Linked DNA regions of Homo sapiens: regions 1, 3, 4 and 5 are each reported to be linked to region 2. The links are microRNA targets in miRTarBase. Many come from high-throughput screens and were not tested one by one. Region 2 holds a microRNA gene; each other region holds the end of a gene's coding sequence.

Region 1 (4,122 bases), not on the chromosome of region 2:
GAAATAGGCTTCTCAATGCTATGTTCTGTTCAAACAACCATCTCTCTTCCTGACATTTGGCCTGACACCGTTCCTCTGGCTCCCCCGAGCAGAAAGCCCTAAGTGGGAGCATGGAGGTGCCCAGACCAAGGCCTCCAGGCAGGGCTGCTTTCCAACAGCCAGGGGAGGATCTGGCCCTGCATTGTGTGGATCCCTTCTTGGGGTGAACCATCACTGGATCAAGCTTTCATACGAAGGCATGCAAATTCCCCTACATCAAATCCTGTGTTAATGACGAAGGGGTGGGTGCCCAGAGCTCTGGGGCTCAGAGGAGGGGACACCCACAGAAAGTTTGGGGCAGGAGACGTTCTGAGTTTTGATCCAAGGCAGAGAATATGTTTCCTTCCTGGGTCCCAGCAGCACCTGTGGCTGGTTTCCTGTGGGGCTGCTGCAAGCTCCTCGGCCGTTCAGATGAGAGGCTGGGAAAAACGTGTCTATCTGTGAGTTTTTAATGCAGCCACAAGGTCCTGAATTCACACGAATCTGTTTGTACTCCTTTGCTTGTGCCCACACTCTAAGGCACTCTCCTGTGTCTTGCAGAAATGGGAACAGATCGAGGGCAACTCCAAGCTGAGGCACGTGGGCAGCAACCTGTGCCTGGACAGTCGCACGGCCAAGAGCGGGGGCCTAAGCGTGGAGGTGTGTGGCCCGGCCCTTTCGCAGCAGTGGAAGTTCACGCTCAACCTGCAGCAGTAGGAGGGTCCGGGAGGCCCTGCCGTCCTGTCTCCTGCACCATTGGGTGGAGTCTGGTGATCACATTATTGATTATGTTTCTTAAACTTTCCGCGAAACTAATATACCTCAGTATTCCATCATGGTCTGAAAGTCAAACTTCGGCAAGGCACGGACGACTGTGCAGACACAGCAGCGGCAAGAAGCGAGAACTGCCCTCCCCCTCCTCTCGGTGCAGCCCAGCCGGGCCCCCTTCCCCAGGCCGGAGCGCCCCTCTTCCTTCCAGCTTTCACTTCTGCCGGCTCCGCAACTGAGTGACACCCAGCGACAACCGACTGGGGAGTGGTAGAAGCAACTGAACGGATGCGTGCGAGCTGAGGACAGGGCGGGAGGAGGGGGCACACATGCCCCAGGGGAGCGAGGAGAACTCTTGAAATCTCCATTTTCAATCCCTTCGAAATCACGTATGGTTTCCACAAAGCCGAGTCGTGTCACGTGGCAGGTTTACGTCAATAGTCCCTCTCTCTGCTCCTCCATTCGCAAGTGTCTTCCTGGGCCAGACTCCCCTCCACCTCATGTACTTGCTATATTGAGGATGAAGTTTTCTATGGTGGGACACTAAATATAAAGCTATATAGAGAAAGAATGTACGGTCAGTTCCCTATGGTTTCTGTAGATCATCGTCATCTTGTATATTCCCCACAAAGCCGTTCGCAGCTTCCGGGAGAAGGGGCCAGAGCCCGGTGGGGCCAGTTTCTCACAGAGGGAGGAGGTGGCCTTTGTCCCCTGGAGCCCGATCAGCCAGTTGGTGCTACTGCTGTGGCCAGCTGGGGGGCTTCCTCCAGACCACCGGCCTCGGCCCCGGCATCCCTGTTGGGCGTCAGCCTGAGAGTCCCTACTGTGCGTCAGAATCCACCTTGCGTGCTGTGCGTATCTGTGAACCTGGAGCGGTTACTTATTTTGACAGATATCACTTTGGGTCTTTTTACATTAAATTTCTTTTCTCTAAGGAATATAAGACATACCCCATAGCTCTGTGTGAGCCAGCAATACCGCTGCCCCCTGGCGACAGGGCAGACCAATGATGCCAGGCAGCTGTCACACGCTAGTATTGGCTTCATTGTGATCTGAGCCCTGCACGCTGGGCCTTCAGAATTAATGGCCAGCAGTGTCAGGGATGAGCCCGTCAGCCAGGGCACAGGCCTGGCTCACAGTCCTGCACACCTGCTGGCCTGGGGAGCTCCAGCCAGGCAGCGAGTCCTGCCCCGCCCGCAGCTCCCTCCCACACCCCGCCTGGCCAAGATGACTGCTTCAGGGGGCTTTGGGGAAAGAATTAGGAAGGGTCAGAACCAAACAATACCTGCTCATTTACACTGAGGATTCAGGGCGGGAGACAGGAGCCTTGGGGTCCTGTTAAACCACAGACAGTTATGAACTGAAAGTCATAACGGGGAGAGGTGCCTGGCTTCTACCTGGGTGCTCAGGAATGTTCCTCGTCACCCCTGCCACTCTGTGGTCGGTGCCCTGCTTCCTCCTCCACTCCTGGCCGCCTTCTCCAGCGCCGCACACACAGATGCTCAGTCTCAGAGAGGCTGGCACGGCCTGGCAGTCTGAGAAAAGCGTCAGTTAGGCACACCTGCAGGCCCCTCGGTGGGACAGCGGCGGCCTTGGAGTTAGGAGCCACCCTGGGAGGTTGTGCCGGTGCCATGCTCCTCCCTGTGTCTTGTATGAAAGGGGCCACTGTGTGTCTTCCTCCCCGGCGGGAGCCCCACATGTGTGCACTGTAGGACAGCGGCCCCGAGGTGGAAGCCTGGCTGGAGGGCTGCCCTATAGGTCTTCTCTTCCCGCCTCCCCTGCCATGCAACCAGATGTGTTGTGAGTGGGCAGCGTGCCCCCACGCTGGAGTAACTCCGCACGCTTCTGTCTTTCACGGTGGGCGCTCGGGGGGAGCCTGAGGAAAACCCCCTTAGGTACCTGTGCGAGGCTGTGGAGTGCAGGCCAGAGCAGGGTGTGCGTAGCCCCCAGCACCCAGGTTCTTCTGTCAGACCCTGTGACCTGCGAGCTGCTACTACTGTAAGGAGGGAAATGGATGAATCTGGCTCGTTTTAAAATCACGTTTTCTGACGAATCCTTTGCCCCTTCACCTTTACCCCGCCCGCACCCCTAGGCCCTCTCAGCCTTCCTATCATCCCACGTGTCTACCCAGACCCTTGTGCGGCCCATGCCCTGGGGGCGGCGTCCTGTCCCTGAGCTGGGAGGCGGCTTTGGATGGTCCGGGCGTCAAGAGCAGGGGTGGGCCGGGGAGGGGTCCTTTGCGGTGAGCTATGTTTACATGACACAGTGTGCCAAAGTGACTTACTGCGGTTGCGTTAGTTTTTAATCATCAGGACTATCTCACCCTCCCACTCCTGTTTTTAAAACTCAGAATTCTTTCCTAAGAGCCCTTCGAGCAAAGCGTGCCGAAGTTAGTTGTCTTCTCTGTGCTGGTCCTTTCTTATGTCCTCATAAAAGCTCAGATGATGGTATCTGTGAGTATGTTTTGCAAATTCAAAATATAGTTTGGTAATTTTTTTTTCCAGTTGATTTTTAAAAAGAACTGCTGTACAGAGCTTGTACTTTGTCCATTTTATAGATGGAAACCATCCTTGAAAATTGTTTAACTTAAATAAAGAGAAGATACTTTCTAGATACCGCTCTTTGCTGGCCAGAGTCTGTCCTGGTGTGTGAGGGCTGGGTGGGGTGGGTGTGGGGACTGGGATTGGGGTCAGCCTTCTGCAGCTCCTGCTCAGTGGCTGTTTCTTATCACCTTTTGCAGATGCGCTTTTATTGCTGTGCCCTTTGGTTGGTTATTCTTACTTGTAATAATAATCATTATCATTTGTGGAGTGTTTATGATGTGCCAGGCACCCAGCCAAGCCCTTAAATACATTTGCATTTTACAGCCACAGGGGAAGCTGGTGAAGGAAGTTGCTAGCCTGCTCAAGGTCACGTCCTTCCTGTGTACCTGCCTGGAGCCAGCCCTTGGCACTCGCACCCAGACCCTGTGCTCCAAACCAGGGGACAAATATTTTTACAGTTTTTCAAGTAGTTAAGATTTATAGACTTGTTTACCAGTTACCTGGGGCTCTTCGGTTCCATCCAGGCGTCTCTGAGGTTCTTCAGATACTATTTGTTTTATTTTATTTTTTTTGAGACGGAGTCACCTAGGCTGGAGTGTGGCGGCGCAATCTCGACTCACTGCAACCTCCGCCTCAGTGATTCCAGCGATTCTCCCGCTTCAGCCTCCAAGGTAGCTGGGATTACAGGCACTCACCACCATACCTGGCTAATGTTTTGAATTTTTAGTAGAGATGAGGTTTCACCATATTGGCCAGGCTGGTCTTGAACTCCTGACCTCAAGTGATCCGCCAG
Region 2 (4,122 bases):
CCCTTGGCTGACATCTCCATGTTCCTTACCCATTACCTTCCAAAGGAGACCCTTATCTGAATTACCAAAGGGGGCTTCCCAGAGCAGGGAAACCTGGTTAAATTTGTATTTCAGATTAACAGTATACTTGAGATGTACTTGAAGTAGAAATGATTGGCTGTGGGTGTCGGCATTTGTTTTTTCTAATTTTAAATATGGGACCATCATGAATTTGGGTGTCACTTTGTGCAGGGGACGTGGGAATCGCTGTCATTTTTTTTTTTTTTTAACATATGCTGCCAGAGAAGGCACTTAGGTGGAGAAATTACTCTTCGTGTGAGCATTCAGTATATAGAACTTCCTTTTCTGGGGGCAGTGTCTTATATATGATACACATTTTATCATATCATCTTCTATAGATAATATAATGATTAACACAAAACACTCTTCTACACACACAGAATACTCTTGTATCACTTTGGGTTTTTTTTCCTTCGTGTGTGTGTGTGTGTGTGTGTGTGTGTGTGTGTGTGTGTGTTATGAGACAAGGTCTGGCTCTGTCACCCAGGCTGCAGTGCAGTGTTGCAGTCTTGGCCCATGCCCCACCGCAGCCTCTGGAATAGCTGTCTGCAGGCCAGGCACGGTAGCTCAGGCATGTCGTCTCAGCACTCTTGGAGACCAAAGCAGGCTAATCACCTGGAGTCAGGAGTTTGAGACCAGCCTGGCCAAGATGGTGAAACCTCATTTCTACTAAAAGTACAAAAATTAGCCGGGCGCGGTGGCTCACGCCTGTAATCCCAGCTCTTAGGGAGGCAGAGGCAGGAGGATAGCTTGAGCCCAGGAGTTTGAGACCTGCCTGGGCAATACAGTGAGACCCTGTTCTCCACAAAAAGAAAAGAAAAAAAAGAAAAAAAAATTTTAAAAATGCAAAATTAGGTGGGCATCGTGGCACGTGCCTGTAATCCCAGGTACCCCAGAGGCTGAGACAGGAGAATTGCTGGAAACCTGGAGGCAGAGCTTGCAGTGAGCTGAGATCACGGCCCTGCACTACAGCCTGGGCAACAAAGTGAGACTTGTTTCAAAAAAAAAAAAAAAATTTATTGAGGAGCTTTTATGGCCTAGCCTGTGTTCTATCCTGGAGAATGTGTGTACAACAGTGTATATTCTTAAACATCATCTTAGATTCCATTTTGGATGCTTGCATGGGGACTGTGTGTCCCTGTACTGGGACTTATGTGAACACTTGGCTTCAAATCCATTGCTGTTCTCTAGAAATCCAGCCCAATTCTCATGGTTAAATATAAGGTATGTGTGGTAGGCATTGCTTTTTCTCTTTGGGGACAGAACTCAGGAGGATTGTCTCTTGATGAACAAGGCTAACCTGCTGAGCCTTTGAAGCAAGGAACTGGAGATGGTCCTTTTAGGGGTTTATATTCTGGATTCCAGAAAACATGCAGAGAGAGTCAATAAATGTATCTTTATTTTTGTGTCCATTTTAACCAGGTGAGGAAAATTCCGTCAAAAAACCCAGACTTTTGGAGCGAGAAGATCTCATGCAGTCATTCTCCAAAAGAAAGCACTTTCTGTTGTCTGAAAGCAGAGTGCCTTCTTTTGGAGCGTTACTGTTTGAGAAAAACCACGTTGAAGTTGATGCTGATCTTGGTAACACATTTGCAGAGCGTGCTTATCATCAGACTTGCATGATGTTGGGGTTCTGTTTTTGTTTAGTTGTTTTGCATCATGGGGTCTCTGTTGCCCAGGCTGGAGTGCGGTGGCGCTTCCAACCTAGATCTCTTGGGCTCAAGTGGTCCCGTGCTTGCTTTTTTTTTTTTTCTTGAAACAGAGTCTCTGTCTCTGGCCCAGGCTTGAGCGCAGTGGCATGTTATCTGCTCACTGCAACCTCTCCTCCCAAGTAGATGGGATTACAGGTGCACGTGCCACGACGCCTGGCTAATATTTGCATTTTTAGCAGAGATGCAGTTTCATCATGATGGCCAGGTTAGTCTCCAACTCCTGACCTCAGGTGATCCGCCTGCCTCAGCCTCCCAAAATGCTGAGATTATAGGTGTAAGCCACCCAGCCTAGCCTCCAATTTTTTTTAATGTGTGCTGCCAATGCAAGCACATATGTGTAGGAATTATTTTTCATGTGAGCACATAGTATATGGAACTTAATTTTTATTGATGTACGGTCTCAAAAATATATATTTTATCATATTCTTATTATACATGTAACATAGTCATATACACACAAAACACTCTTCTATACACAGAGAATACTCTCGTATCACTTTGGGTAATTTTTTGTTTGTGTGTGTATGTTTTTGTTTTTTTTTTAGATAAGGTCTGGGTCTGTCACCCAGGCTAGAGTGCAGTGGTGCCATCTCAGCTTATTGCAACCTCCACCTGCCACTTCAGCCTCTTGAGTAGCTGTCTACAGGCGCACACCACCACGCCCGGCTAACTTTTCTGTTTTCTCTACACATGAGGTATCACCATGTTGCCCAGGCTGGTCTCAAACTCTTGAACTCAAGTGATACTCCTGCCTCAGCCTCCTAAAGGGCTGGGTTTAGAGGTGTGAGCCACCACACCTCACCTGTACCTGTGTGTTTCTGCTCATTTTATTGAGGAGCTTTTACAGCCTGGCCTGTGGTCTCTCCTGGAGGGTGTTTGTGTGTGTGACAATGCATATTCTTCAACATCGTAGATTCCATTTTGGATGCCCCCGTCGGGACTGTGTGTCACTGTACTGGAACTCGAGTGAACACTTAGCTCAAAATCTATTGCTGTTCTCTAGAATCCAGCCCAATTCTCATGGTTAAATATAAGGTATGTATAGTCGGCATTGCTTTTTGAAACAAGGAACTGGAGATGGCCCTGATAGGGGTTTATGTTCTGGATTCCAGAAATCATGCAAACAGGGCCAATAAATGCATCTTTATTTTTGTGTCCATTTTAACCTGGTCAAGGAAAATTCCAACAAAAAATCAATGGTGCTGGAGCAAGAAGATCTCAGCCTGTGACCCTCTAGAGGGAAGCGCTTTCTGTTGTCTGAAAGAAAAGAAAGTGCATCTTTTTAGAGGATTACAGTTTGAGAAAAGCAACGTTAACGTTCATGCTGATCTCGGCAATACATTTGCAGAGCGTGCTTATCATCAGACTTGGATGAGGGTGGGCTTTTGTTCCTGGTTTGTTTGTTTTCTAAGACGGGGTCTCTTTTGCCCAGGCTGGAGAGCAGTGGCACTTCCAACCTAGCTCTCTTGGGCTCAGGTGGTCCTCTTTGCAGGGTCACGATCTCTGCTCACTACAATCTCCCCTTCCCGGGTTGAAGTGGTTCTCCCATCTCAGTCTCCTGTGTTGCTGGGAGTACAGGCCCATGCCACCACGCCCGGCTAATTTTTGTATTTTTAGCAGAGATGGGGTTTCACCGTGTTGACCAGGATGGTCTCCATCTCCTGACCTCGTAATCCACCTGCCTCGGCCTCCCAAAGTGCTGGGTTTACAGTCATGAACCACTGCACCCGGCCTTTGATCTTAATTTTCAATATGAGACCCATCATGAATTTGGGCATCACCTCTGCACAGGGGCCATGGTGATCTCTGTCACTCCATTCATTTCTTATGTGTGGAGCAAACATTTATGTGTAGGAGTAATTCTTTATGTGAGCATACAGTATATGGAACTTTCTTTTTTTTTGAGATAGGGTCTGGAAAATAAATGATGTACAGCCAGGCGCATGAGTATATGAGCAGTTTTTGTGTGTATACGACATGAGCGGTGGCTCATGCCTGCAATATCAACACTTTGGCAGGTTGAGGCGAGTGGATCACTTGAGGTCAGGAGTTTGAGACCAGCCTGACCAACATGGTGAAACCCTGTCTCTACTAAAAATACAAAAAATTAGCCAGCTATGGTGGCGCACGCCTGTATTCCCATCTGCTGGGGAAGTTGAGGGAGGAGAATCACTTGAACGGACAGATGGAGGTTGCAGTGAGCCAAGATCACGCCACCACACTCCAGCCTGGGCGAGAGAATAAGACTGTCTCAAAAAAAAAATATATATATACATATATATTTATATAGAGAGAGAGACTCTGTCTCAAAAAAAAAAATATATATATGGGTGTGTTTGTGTGTATATAT
Region 3 (4,122 bases), not on the chromosome of region 2:
ATTCTTTTATTTCATTTGAGACACAATATTGACTCTATTCAAAATGTTTAGTAACATTAAATGAGGATGTGATGGTTTTTGTATCAAAAGATGGCTGCTGTTAAAAAGGTTGAGACACAGGTTTTGAGGAAACAGAGAGCTAAAAGTTGGAGTGTTTATTCTATCCACTTTTTAGACTTTGCAAGAGTGTGCATCCACAATCACATATATATGGATGGAATCACTGAATCTTTTTCATCTCCTATTCAGAATACATCTGCTTCCTGCTTTCACAATGTGCAATTTTGCTCTTTTCTGTTGTGCAGCTATGGGAGACATCCATTTAAGATCAACTGTTTACATGTGATACATCGAAAACTGTTTACTTCAACTTTTATAGAAACCCAGGCTCATGGAATCACTGCAAATCTATCTGCTCTTCAGACAATACGAAGACCCTCTGAGATGCTACAGAGGAGAGGAAGCGGAGTTTCACATCTGGTTACCATTTTCTTTTTGTCATTGGCTTAGGATTTAACTAACCATGAAAAGAACTACTGAAATATTACACTATAACATGGAACAATAAAGGTACTGGTATGTTAATGGATAATCCGCATGACAGATAATATGTAGAAATATTCATAAAGTTAACTCACATGACCCAAATGTAGCAAGTTTCCTAAGGTACAATAGTGGATTCAGAACTTGACGTTCTGAGGCACATCCTCACTGTAAACAGTAATGCTATATGCATGAAGCTTCTGTTTATTGTTTTCCATATTTAAGGAAACAACATCCCATAATAGAAATGAGCATGCAGGGCTAAGGCATATAGGATTTTTCTGCAGGACTTTAAAGCTTTGAAAGGCCAATATCCCATAGGCTAACTTTAAACATGTATTTTTATTTTTGTTTTGTTTTTTACTTTTCATATTTATATTAGCATACAAGGACAATTGTATATATGTAACATTTTTAAAATTTTAAAAAAATGCAGCTGTTACACACAAGTGTATTTTGCCAAATGCCTAAAAATTCCGTCACAATCACATCATCGTCATCCATCCAGTGATCTTCAAAGACTATAAGCAGGTAATGTAAATATAGTGGTCAATGCTGTAAATGTGTCTCTCCATAATTCGTATTTGTCCAAAACATGTGATATCCCTTTAACCTGTGCACAGTCTGGAGGCAGTTTTATTGAGTGAGTAGTTGAGTGAGAGAACAAAATGCCCAGCAAAACTTCTGGCCTCCACAGTTTGCTGATGCAGGAGCCCACTCTGCTGCCGATGGGCTGCTCCCTGGAAATCATCTATCCCATCCGTCCATCCCATCTCATCCCAGTGAGCCAGCCCCTCAGCAGTGTGTGCTGCTGAGATTAAGCAAGTGCACCAAAGACACATGAGACAACGTACTGCCAGTGAGCTGGTAGCTTCTGGTTTGCCAATACTCTAACCCTTTGTGGCCTGAAGTTTTGTTCCTTGGCAAAACTTTGTAGTCACCCTTATCTGTGAAATGAATGACTTGTTTTAACAAAAACAACTTTGACACTGTTGATTAAGAATATTTGTCATCACTGGGATGTGAATCCCAACAAGTCATTCTGCACTGACTCTGAAGCAAGATGACGGAAGATTCTACTGTTTGAGTTGAGCAGCTTCAACCATTCATAAAGGGTTAAGTTAGATCTAAACCACAGAGATGCAGCATCTGCGAAGTTACACTAACAGCTGGTGGGGGAAAGAATCTGATGCTTTGAAACATATATTTTTAATCCATAGGAAAATAAGATTCTATTTTAAAAGACCCTTCTTTAAAACCAAAGTTTGATAGCTGTTATAATGGCAGATCTGTCATTCCAAAAGAAAGCTAGCTACCCTAGTGAGGCTGGAGATTGATGGGCTCAATCACATGGTCTGCTCTGAAGTATACTTCTGATTTCCTCATTTGCTGTGTGTTCTTAAGAGGAATGGAATCTGCAGACAGGTTTTCAGATATACTCTCTTAAATTTGATCCTCTCCCATAGTATCCATGGACAAAATCCATATCATCTTCATATGTAATCAATTTGATTACATATCATGCCCAAACTGAAGGGCCGAGTTAGAAGGCAGCATTTTATACTGTGTGTTTATGTCTTCTGTAATGGACCTCTCTTTTGAAAGTCTTTGAAATGTTTGGAAAGCAATTTAATGATCCAAAATTACATAATGTAAAACAGCATTTTTCATGACAGGAAGGGATGTGATTGTTGATATGACCATAAAGCGATCCATCAGGCCAAGGTTTGGGTGAGTGTTGGGCAGTGTTGCCACATAGCTCAAGCCAAGAACAGAAGGGCAGACAGATTGAAAGATGTAGCAAATAAAGTGACTTTTTACCAAGATCACTGTAACGTGCACTGAATGTTTCCTGGTACTGAGTGTACAAAAGGCTAATGCTATAAGGTTTATTTTGACTATAAAAGAGTTTATAGATTTGAATATAAGGTGCCTCATGTAAATATGCTTCCTAGTTACAGGTACACAAACTCTAATTTGAAAGAATCCACAAATGGCTAGCTGAGAAGTTAACAGATCTCTATCATTCGTCTGTGTGTCTTTCTTCCCTCACCTATTTTTACATGAAATTATTATTTCAAATGAAAATCATGATCATGTGCCTTTTGGGAGACATGGTTTCTCTAGAGGTATATAGTTTGTAATTACCCGCCTTGGTAATAACCTTCCTGTGGAACTGACTAAAAATTTTTGTTTTATTTGTAGAGATTATGATTTGAGGTATACAGTAACTTTAATGTTCTATTCTTGGAATCTACTCTATCTCCCATGTTTAAACATTCTTAGAGCCATTTGTGGGATTCATTGACAAATTTATAGTCTCAAGGGAGAGTTTCAAGAAGTATCTATATGTATACTCATGGTTGGGGTTCTAGAGGCATTACATCTAAATATTTATGACTTTTCATCCACCGAGGTAGGTAGCATTAAATATACAAGCACAGCATTATTTCTCTTTAAATATCTATTTTGGAGAGAAACTTTGAGGCCGTATCACAGTTTATATCATGCAACTAATATTTATATTTCCCAATCCACTACAAAATCATTGCTAAGCAGAAGAGAGCAGTTATTTGGCCTTTATGTTCCATTGTATGCCTTTTTCCCCTCTTCCAGTTTTATGCATTGATAAGACTACAGATTGGCACCCTGCTGCCTGAGAAGTTCCATTTATCCATAGTCATTGCAGTGCAGTAAACCCTGATTTAAAGGAACATTTAAGTCTCTCCAGTAAGTGTGAACAGGAAGGCATGGGATAGAAGAGAGTCCTTATGGAGTGGACTGGCCACATGAACTGTCCTCCAGCCACTCTTTATTTAGATGGGAAGTGGCATGGTCCTCTGAACGCTGCAGGCTGGAAATGATCCCCAGGGCACATGCAATCTGTGGAAAGGAATACATCGGACAGTGCAACATGGTGAGGGCTTTCAATTTGCTGTGGTTGCTGTATTTTTAACAAGACACCCGGAGCTTCGATTAGGAATAACCTATCATTAGAGTTGTTCCTTTAAAAAATGTTGATGAATAAAGCAAATGTGGGTTTAAAATGCCAACTTATTTTTCACTTTGATATTGGTGCTTTATTAAGTGATACCATAGTTTCTCTCTCTTTTCCCTGTTACTTTAAAAAGAATTTTAAAATTGTGTTTGTATATAAGGTCAGTCTGGCATAGAATTTCTGAAAGTAACATTAATAGGATTTCTAAAGAAGTTGTCAGAAAGACAAAATTGGATATTCTCTGCACTTTCAGAGAAGGACTATTTATGTTTGAATTTCATAACAGGCTTACATTTCTTTTCTATTGATTCCCTTGCATATCTACATAATTTAATCCTGTCTATTGTCCCAGATCTCTTGTGGCTACTTTACCTGTTACCTTTTTTGGGATTTTGTTCTTTATGTTTTACAGTTACCTTCGGACCAGAAGATATATGGTATTTTTATTCACTTTTTTCAGTGTTTTAAAATAAGGTTTGTTCATTTATTCATTTTATCCATTCATTTCCTATTGTCGTATAGTTCTAACCATATATATAGTACTTTAAATATTTTCTTATGTTATTATTTAACACAATAAT
Region 4 (4,122 bases), not on the chromosome of region 2:
ACGTAAGTGCAGAGAGACCTTTGAAAATATTAAGGGAAATCTATTTAATCCTATAGGTATGTGATGACTTGTTTTTTTGGAAAAAGGTATTTGGAACATCAATCTGTAATTATCCATTTTCCATTCATGCATTCACTAATTCAATATTTGATATGTGTCTGGGAGTGCTGGGAATAACATAAATACAAAAAAAACCCTAAGATAATCATTCACCAGAAGCTCATAGATATAATACAGTTATATAGCTAAATGCAACCAGTTGTTTTTCCAAATGTACTCATCATCTGTAATAAAAGAAAAATGAAGTAAAACATCTGAAACCTTAACTTACTCATGAGTTGCTACTTCCTTGGAGGCAACTGTAGAAGCATTAATATATGGTTCTTTGGGTTGGGTCATACTGCCCTCTGCTGACTCAGTTACTAACTAAGGACAACCTGGGTTTGAGGATCAGGAGAGGATGGTGTGGGAACCTGCCTCAGGAACTACAGTTCCCTTTCTTTGAAGGATTCTATCCAGAAGAGACCATATCCTACTAACATACTAATAGGAGCAACATAGCAGATCAAATGATAAGGTGGGGTGGAAATTAGAAGGGAATGGGAATAAGCTAGTCAGAACTTTCTAAGGTAACTAGGCTATTAGGACCTAAGCCAGTGGTCCCTAGACTTGTCTGCACATTGGAATCACCTGGGGAACTTTAAAAATATGCCTTTTACTTCCTCCAGGGATTGTGACTTAATTGGTCTTAGATGAGGCTTGGGCTTTGGGATTTTTCTAAGATTCAAATAAGAGAGAAGTTGGGAATCTCTTCTAGGCAATAGCATAAGCCCAGCCAGGGTCCAGCATTTATGAAAAATTGACAAACTGTTTTGCTAAGAATCACCTGTGTTAGTCGGCTTGCATTGCTATAAGGAAATACTGACAATTTTTAGAAAGAAAAGAGGTTTATTTGGCTCACTGTTCTGCATAGAACTGTATAGGAAGCATGGCGCTGGCATCTGCTTCTGGTGAGGGCCTCACGAAGCTTACAATCATGGCAGAAGGTGAAGGGGAGCCAGTGTGTCACATGGTGAGAGAGAGCAAGCGAGAGAGGAGGAAGTTCCAGGCTCTTTTAAACAACCAGCTCTTGCATAAACAACCAGAGTGAGAACTCACTCATTACTATGGGGATGGCACAAAGTCATACATAAGGGATCCGCCCCCATGACCCAAATACCTCCTACTAGGCCCACCTCTAACACTGAATGTCACACTTTGAACATGAGATTTGGAGGGGACAAAACATCCAAACCATATCACCACCTGAGAATGGTACACTACAGGTCACAGAAACTTACAGAGTACTGGAGTTGAAAGAGAACTGAGATCACCTAGTTCAGAGACTAACGGGAAACGTTAGGTCATTTATGGCTCTCAGACACGTTAAGCCTGCATAACATTTTTTAAAATCTTGAAATTAGTTCCCAACACTTAATTGAGAGCTTTCACAGAAAAATCTAGATATGTGGCTTATTTTTAAAAAACAGAAGATTTGCTGACTTAAACACTGCAAAATTAAACATTTATATCTGAATCCAGCATCTCTTTTTGCTTTGTAAATGAGGTCAAGGATGAAATCCAGATGTTCTTCCTTTGTATTTGTATTGTCACTGTATGGAATCTAGGTATATCCAAGGAAAAATAAACTTAAGATAAGCTTATTTTCCTTATTTCAAAAAGCAAAACAAAAACCCAGAAGATCTAACAACCCTGGACCTGTAGAGTGGCAGCAACAGACCAGAACTCAGCAGTATAGTCCGAGCTGGGGCACCTGCTCGCCAGTGTTACTGTCTCCATCAGCCTGACCCCAGTGAGCATTTGATTTGGTCTACCCTACTCTTGCCTTCTACAGAACTAAAACTAACTTCCTGCAACTTTCATCCATTGCTGCCAGCTCTGCAGCATAATGGAAGCTCATTCCCTCTTCTGCATGAGACGGCTTCAACTTCTCAAGGACAGGAATCTTGCTCTCTCTCCAGATGTTCTCTGCTCCAGTTAAATATCCCTAGTTCCTTCACCTATTCCCTGTGTGACAGGGGTTCTGGACTCATCATTCTGATCTCTTCTTCTGGATACACACTTAGTGGCCATCAATATCTTGCTTAAATTTGGTACCCAGAGTGAAATGCAGTATGTTAGGGGTATTTTGACTATGGCTGTGACACTTCTACTGATAAAACCTGAAGTACCACTAATTTTTCTGTTATCATATAATAACAACATGAATACTACTTGGTTCATATTGAACCTGAGGACAACTAAAATCCCGTCTTTTTTATATGAAATGATATAAGGCCAGGTTTCTTCAGCCCAAACTTATACAACTTATTTAATTTAAATGAGTATGTTACATTTCTAATCTGTTTAATTTCATCTCGATGGGGTCATTCTGGGACTGTTTTCAGTTGCCACTGTCATCTATTATATTAGCAATATTGGGTTGCTCCATCCTCAAATCAGATGTTTCTGATGCCTTCATCCAAATCACTGATTTTAAAAGTAAAGTTGAATAAGACAGGGCCCTATGAAATATCAATAGAGACCAAAATCACATTAATTCAGCAGTCAACAATTTGTTTATCTGGGTAGATGTCCATGCACTACACCATCAAGGCCATATTTTTCTTATTACAAAGCTGTTAGGAAACCCTCTCAGGAACCAATTTATACTGTCGATTCCATTCCTCTCTCTGACCTTGTAATGTTAACAGCCTTATCAAAAGAGGAACTAGCTGGGCGTGGTGGCCCATGCCTGTAATCTCAGCACTTTGGGAAGCCGAGATGGGCGGATTACCTGAGGTCAGGAGTTCAAGACCAGCCCGGCCAATGTGGTGAAACCCCTTCTCTACTAAAAATACAAAATTAGCCAGGCATGGTGACTTGTGCCTGTAGTCCCAGCTACTCGGGAGGCTGAGGCATGAGAATCGCTTGAACCTGGGAAGTGGAGGTTGCAGAGTGAGCTGAGATCACGCCATTGTACTCCAGCCTGGGCAACAAGAGTGAAACTCTGTCTCAAAAAAAAAAAAAAAAATGGAACTATTTGGCGATTACCTCCTTTTCCAAGTACTTAAAAACCATTTTGCTACATATACACATTAAGCTTGTCAAAATCTGCAATTTCCCCATTTCTGAAAATCAGGATATTAGAAGACATTAGCTTTTTTTTTTTTGCTGAAGACCAGCTGGCTACTTTGGGTATGTCAATCCTATCCTTTCAATCTTCACCTAATGGAAGTGAAGTTAAGATCATAAAGAAATTCTATTTAGGCAGAATTAAGGACTCAGGAGAACATCCACGTAGAAATCATCCACGTAGAACCAAGAGCTTGCCAACACTGAAAAACCTGACACAAAGCCTGTTAAGCAGCAAATGGCAGACATTTCTTTCTCTACATTAAAACTGATTTTCAACATGAAAAGCAGATTTAAAAGGGAACATTTAGGGTAACCACACTTAATGCATTCTTGATCCAGTGACTATCTCAAAACAGGAAAAGATTTTTAAGTAAGTTGACCATTTGGAAACCACTTGGTATGTCAAGGTCATCTCGTAGAAAAGCCCAAGTTCTTATGATCTCTGAAGAGCTCTCAAAAGCAGTCACAGTCCCAGGAGGCTGGTCCTCTAAGAATCATTTTGGGACTCTTCGGAGTTCATTCATCAGCCAAAGAGCACCAGTGAGCAAAGCCAAGGAGCCTGACTGGTGAGTGGCGGCCAGAGGAGTTGGGACATACATCAGCAGCGTGCTGATGCCCAAGCCCACCTGTCACAAAGGAAAGAAGGCAATAGGAAAGGCAGTAACCCAAAGTTCACATTGAAAATGGCCAGGCGTGGATAACCACACACAAACCTCCACATCCTCCTATCAGAGCACTTAAAATACACACATTTTTAATTTCACAAGCAAATATGCTTACAATGAAAGAAATTCGAACAAAATTGATAAACCTAAAATTCCCCTTATTCTTCAATCCATCCCAGTTCCCCAGAGTAGTCACTGTTACCAGTTTCTGCATACTTGTACTTTAGTATGTTTATAGAGAAATAAATATATAGTTTTGTGCTTTTAAAAAACATATTGT
Region 5 (4,122 bases), not on the chromosome of region 2:
TATCTAACTTAATCCCCACAATAATTCTGTGAAGTATTTCTCTTCTGTAGATGGTGAAATAGATACTAGGAGTGACTTTCCCAAGAGTATACAACTGGTAAGTAGTGAAATGAGAACTGTAATTCTGGTTTTCAAAAAAACTCCCCATCTCCCCATGTACTACTTTTCCACTACACTGGCATGGCTCCCATGGGAGTTTGTTCATGTTTAAAAATATAGCTCTTTAAACTTGCTTCTATTTAGGCATCTTTCTTAATTTATCTCTATGTAGTTATATAACTTTCTTTAAAAGTCTCATATATATTAATAACCAAACACACTTTTTAAATTGCAGTTTGTCACTGCTAAGATGTAGAAATGAGATTTTTAAAAATTGTGTATCCTGCAACTTCTTGAATTAGTCTTTGTTAGTACATTTTTATACTATAAGTTTTAGCAGTTGTAAAGCCATGTTAATAGAAAATATTTATGCTACTTTCCTTATCTTCCTCATTTTGTGAATGCTGGCTTTTATTGCAATGACAGGTCTCTTTAACCATATATAAAAATAGTGCCAACACTGTTTACTTTCCACTTGAGAAATGTTTATGTTTTCCCAGTAGGAATAATGGTAGTTCTTGGTTTAAGTACTTAACAGACTCCGAGAAGTCTATTAAATCATTGCCAGAGAAATAATTAAATCAAGGGTGAATGATGAATTTTTGAAAAGTTATCTGTAATTAATACTTTGGATTTTACTATTTGTTCTTTTGATGCTGATTTAATGGCTGTTCTGCTTAACACCAGCCTTATAATCCTGAGTGATAGTAAATTATTTGTTGCTGTATTGTTTGCCAATATTTTATTTTGCATTTTGCATCTGTTGAGAATAAAATCCTTCTAAAAATGTCTTTTAGTACTGAGAACATGTCTGCCTCAAAAGACAATTTGAAGCATACTGTCCTTCATGATACATGGATAGACATTATTTAAACATTTGAAAAAGTTCACCAGTAAGTCCATTAGGGTCAAAGTCCAACCTGTCAGAAAATTATACTGGGTTACAATATCCCCTAAATTTTTAAATGCTTTTTATTGGTATAACTTCTCATTTCCCACTTATTTTGTATTAAGAAATATATTCATTTTCTTCATTTCTAAATCAACCTTTATTTTCGACTAATTTTTCCTATTTCCATTATATTCGGCTATACCATCTTTTGCAACTTCTGATTGTTCCTTTTCTCAATTTCTTATGAATAATCTGTGATACTGAAAATCTTTTCGGTAGATCTGGAATACCTTCACCTTCATTTTATTTATCATCTTATGTATTTCTCATTTTAATTACTATTTTATAGGTCTATTTCAAGTATTTCAGTTGTTCTGTTAGATTTAAACTTTAGGATAAAGTTTAAATATGACTTTTACTATATTTTTAAAAGTCAATACAATCCATGACTTTGCTACTTTAAGTAAGTTGTCAATTACTTAAATCTGTCTAGTCTCATTTTCCTCACATATAGAGGAGCAAAAATTAGTGTATTCCGAACAAATTTTGGCCTGATAATATTTTTTGTAACACAATCTTCAGATCATGAGATGTGTTACTGAAGAACATTTTGTTAAAATTTAGCCAAATTCTGCTTCGAGATCCATGCTCTAAAATATGTTTGTTTAGTTCATCTTATCTTCACATTTCTCTGATTCAATAAGCTGCAGGACCAGTGTGTGCTTTTTACCCCCGGCAATGCTAGACTAATTTTCGTGGGCACTTTCTCTTTCTCCTGCAGCGCCTACACTCTCTAACAGTGAATGTTAGTAGAAAGATCAAAGGTTTTAGAATCACAAAAGGCTGGGTCCCCATGTTGGCTCTTCCACATACCAGATTCTGAGCAAATTACTAATAATTCTCTTATTTCTTCTTTGAAGGTGATATGGTTTGGCTGTGTTCCCACTCAAATCTCATCTTGAATTGTAGCTCCTATAATTCCCACGTGTTGTGGGAGGAACCTGGTGGGAGATAACTGAATCATGGAGTTGTTTCCCCCATACTGTTCTCATGGTAGTAAATAAGTCTCACGATATCTGATGGTTTTAAAAGGGTTTCCCTTTTCACTTAGTTCTCATTCTCTCTTGTCCACCGCCATGTAAGACGTGCCTTTCACCTTCCACCATGATTGTGAGGCCTCCCCAGCCACATGGAACTGTGAGTCCATTAAACCTTTTTCTTTACAAATTACCATCTCAGGTGTGTCTTTATCAACAGCATGAGAACACACTAATACAGAGGGTACATGCGAATTTGCCTCACAGGATTGTTGAGAAACTGTCATGAGAAAGCATAATACTAGGTACCAAACACATGATAAATACTATTTCAGAGCAAAAACTGTCACAGGGATCATCATACTCTGACTGAAGAATGGAAACTGGACTAGAGGAAAAGCAAGTTCATGTCTTCTGACAGCTCCACAGGTTTTCACCATTAGAGTACTACCAGTTTTATGACGTTGGGTGGCTCTGGGAGAAAAAAAGTTTCTATACTCTGGATAACAGCTAAGAGGCAAGAGAGATTACAGAAAATTGTTACTTCACAATTTGTTAAGTGGGACACAACCGAAAGGGCATGGTAAATCCTCCTTTGATTCATTCCTATCAGTTATGTTATAGTGATATTAATTAAAGTGGTAGAGCCAACAAGGTGGTATGTTTCATTCTCACTGAAAAACCTTGGGTAATCTATTTATAGAGGGTTTTATAAGTATCTGTAATCTCAGGTTAAAAAGGCCTCACTCTGTTTCTCCTTAGGAATTCCTAAGAATTCCTCCTTAGGAATTTCAGAACAGCCCTTCTGAAGTATCTTCTCCTGGGGCACTTCATTTTTCCTTTTGGTCTAAGTTACTTATTGGAAGCTATTTTAAGTGCCAGGGCAGGGCTCTGCAGAAATTTTCTGAAGTATTAAATAAGAATAAATCTTATCTTTCAAATTTCCTTTGCAATCAACCTCCCCAAAATGAGCTTTACAACCACTAATTGAACTCCAATTCTTTTTGTAAATTAGAATACTGTGGTGGCATCATTGCCTCATCAGTTACAAGGGTCAAGTGAGTATTATAAACTTCAGACCTTCACAGTGCATAAAGGATCATGCAAAGCTAATCTTTAAACGATTATAGACAAATGTATTTTATTATCATATTGGCATTTGTATTAGTTGCTATTCCTACCACCATGTCTATACATTTATATTATATGCAAAAGATCCACATAATTTACCATTTGTGTATGTTTCACTATTCGAACAGGCCGCAGCAACTGTAACAGCTGCAAAAGTAATTAAAATATTACTTGGGTATTACTAATTGTTCTGTAGACAAAGATAAAATCTGAAGATCATTAGCAAATACATTACCTTTAAGCTGAGTTGCTAATATGGAACCCTTACATATATACCCAATACTAAAATAAAGCTAACTCTGTTTTAAGATTCTGGGTCATATAGCCCATTCTAAACAAAATGTTCAATAATCAATAAATCACTCATTGATAGGTTAACAAAGATATTCAATGCTGAATGTCTGAGAGTTAAAGACAACATCTGCATAGCATTCATCATATATAACCACTTCTAATTACTCATATGGGAAACTGTCCTTTAAATGAGAAAATTCTGATGCCATGAAGGAGGTCCAAAACAGCATTTCGAGATTGCTCTTTTCTAATTTTGAAGGTGCTTCTCTGGGCTTTCTAGGTTTTTGCTTTCCTCAGAGGATTCTAGTTTGGCCATTACTACATTATTGGTTCCAGGAGCCTCTGGCTGCTTATCATCACCATCAAAGATAATGTCTTCTGGATTTGGAGGTGGAGGGCAGAATTCTTCAGTTGGAAAGATCTCCTGGAAAAGTGTTTCAGCTTGCTTGACAGCATGCTCATTTCCCAGGCCACAGTCAGGCCCAGAGCAGACATAAACATTGGAAGGCAAGCCATTATACGAGCTTCTGCTGATTCCCGAGGAATCTCTCATATTAAAATAAAGAGCCCACAAGAGTCTTGGCTTTGTAAGTTCTTCCTCGTTTATTTCTGTTTCAGTATACGGAGTGAATAATTTCTTCACCACTGATTCTAAGTCTTCTCTTGCTG

The links. The annotated mature microRNA hsa-miR-515-3p reads GAGUGCCUUCUUUUGGAGCGUU and lies in region 2 at 1,579-1,600, shown strand. An mRNA with a match to its seed (bases 2 to 7 or 8) in the 3' UTR can be bound and repressed. Matches are read on the target gene's strand: a 7mer-m8 pairs with bases 2 to 8, a 7mer-A1 pairs with bases 2 to 7 and ends in A, and an 8mer does both.
Region 1: the mRNA of GALNT2 is a reported target of hsa-miR-515-3p. The part of its 3' UTR that is shown has no 7-base or 8-base seed match.
Region 3: miRTarBase lists ADAM22 as a target of hsa-miR-515-3p. The part of its 3' UTR that is shown has no 7-base or 8-base seed match.
Region 4: the mRNA of COX15 is a reported target of hsa-miR-515-3p. The part of its 3' UTR that is shown has no 7-base or 8-base seed match.
Region 5: the mRNA of CHML is a reported target of hsa-miR-515-3p. Seed matches in the 3' UTR shown: 7mer-A1 at 549-555.

Annotation. Positions count from the first base shown.
Region 1 is chr1:230,278,724-230,282,845 of GRCh38, forward strand. It overlaps GALNT2 (polypeptide N-acetylgalactosaminyltransferase 2), which reads left to right. Exons shown (of 16, transcript NM_004481.5): 16 at 580-3,399. The coding sequence ends at 735. Among named protein-coding and RNA genes, the nearest start is that of PGBD5, 150 kb to the right of the region's middle. RefSeq lists an enhancer at 3,577-3,736.
Region 2 is chr19:53,683,481-53,687,602 of GRCh38, forward strand. MIR515-2 (microRNA 515-2) reads left to right here and starts at 1,529; the gene lies at 1,529-1,611. It overlaps MIR519C (microRNA 519c), which reads left to right and starts at 2,989; the gene lies at 2,989-3,075. All of the region lies in intron 2 of LOC107985342 (a long non-coding RNA gene), which reads left to right.
Region 3 is chr7:88,196,166-88,200,287 of GRCh38, forward strand. It overlaps ADAM22 (ADAM metallopeptidase domain 22), which reads left to right. Exons shown (of 32, transcript NM_001324418.2): 32 at 306-4,122. The coding sequence ends at 326. Among named protein-coding and RNA genes, the nearest start is that of SRI-AS1, 18 kb to the right of the region's middle.
Region 4 is chr10:99,710,916-99,715,037 of GRCh38, forward strand. COX15 (cytochrome c oxidase assembly factor COX15) reads right to left here. Exons shown (of 9, transcript NM_078470.6): 9 at 1-3,803. The coding sequence ends at 3,672. It overlaps ENTPD7 (ectonucleoside triphosphate diphosphohydrolase 7), which reads left to right. Exons shown (of 13, transcript NM_020354.5): 13 at 1-326. Among named protein-coding and RNA genes, the nearest start is that of COX15, 19 kb to the right of the region's middle.
Region 5 is chr1:241,630,096-241,634,217 of GRCh38, forward strand. It overlaps CHML (CHM like Rab escort protein), which reads right to left. Exons shown (of 2, transcript NM_001381853.1): 2 at 1-4,122. The coding sequence ends at 3,701. The region is part of intron 1 of OPN3 (opsin 3); the gene reads right to left. Among named protein-coding and RNA genes, the nearest start is that of CHML, 8.2 kb to the right of the region's middle.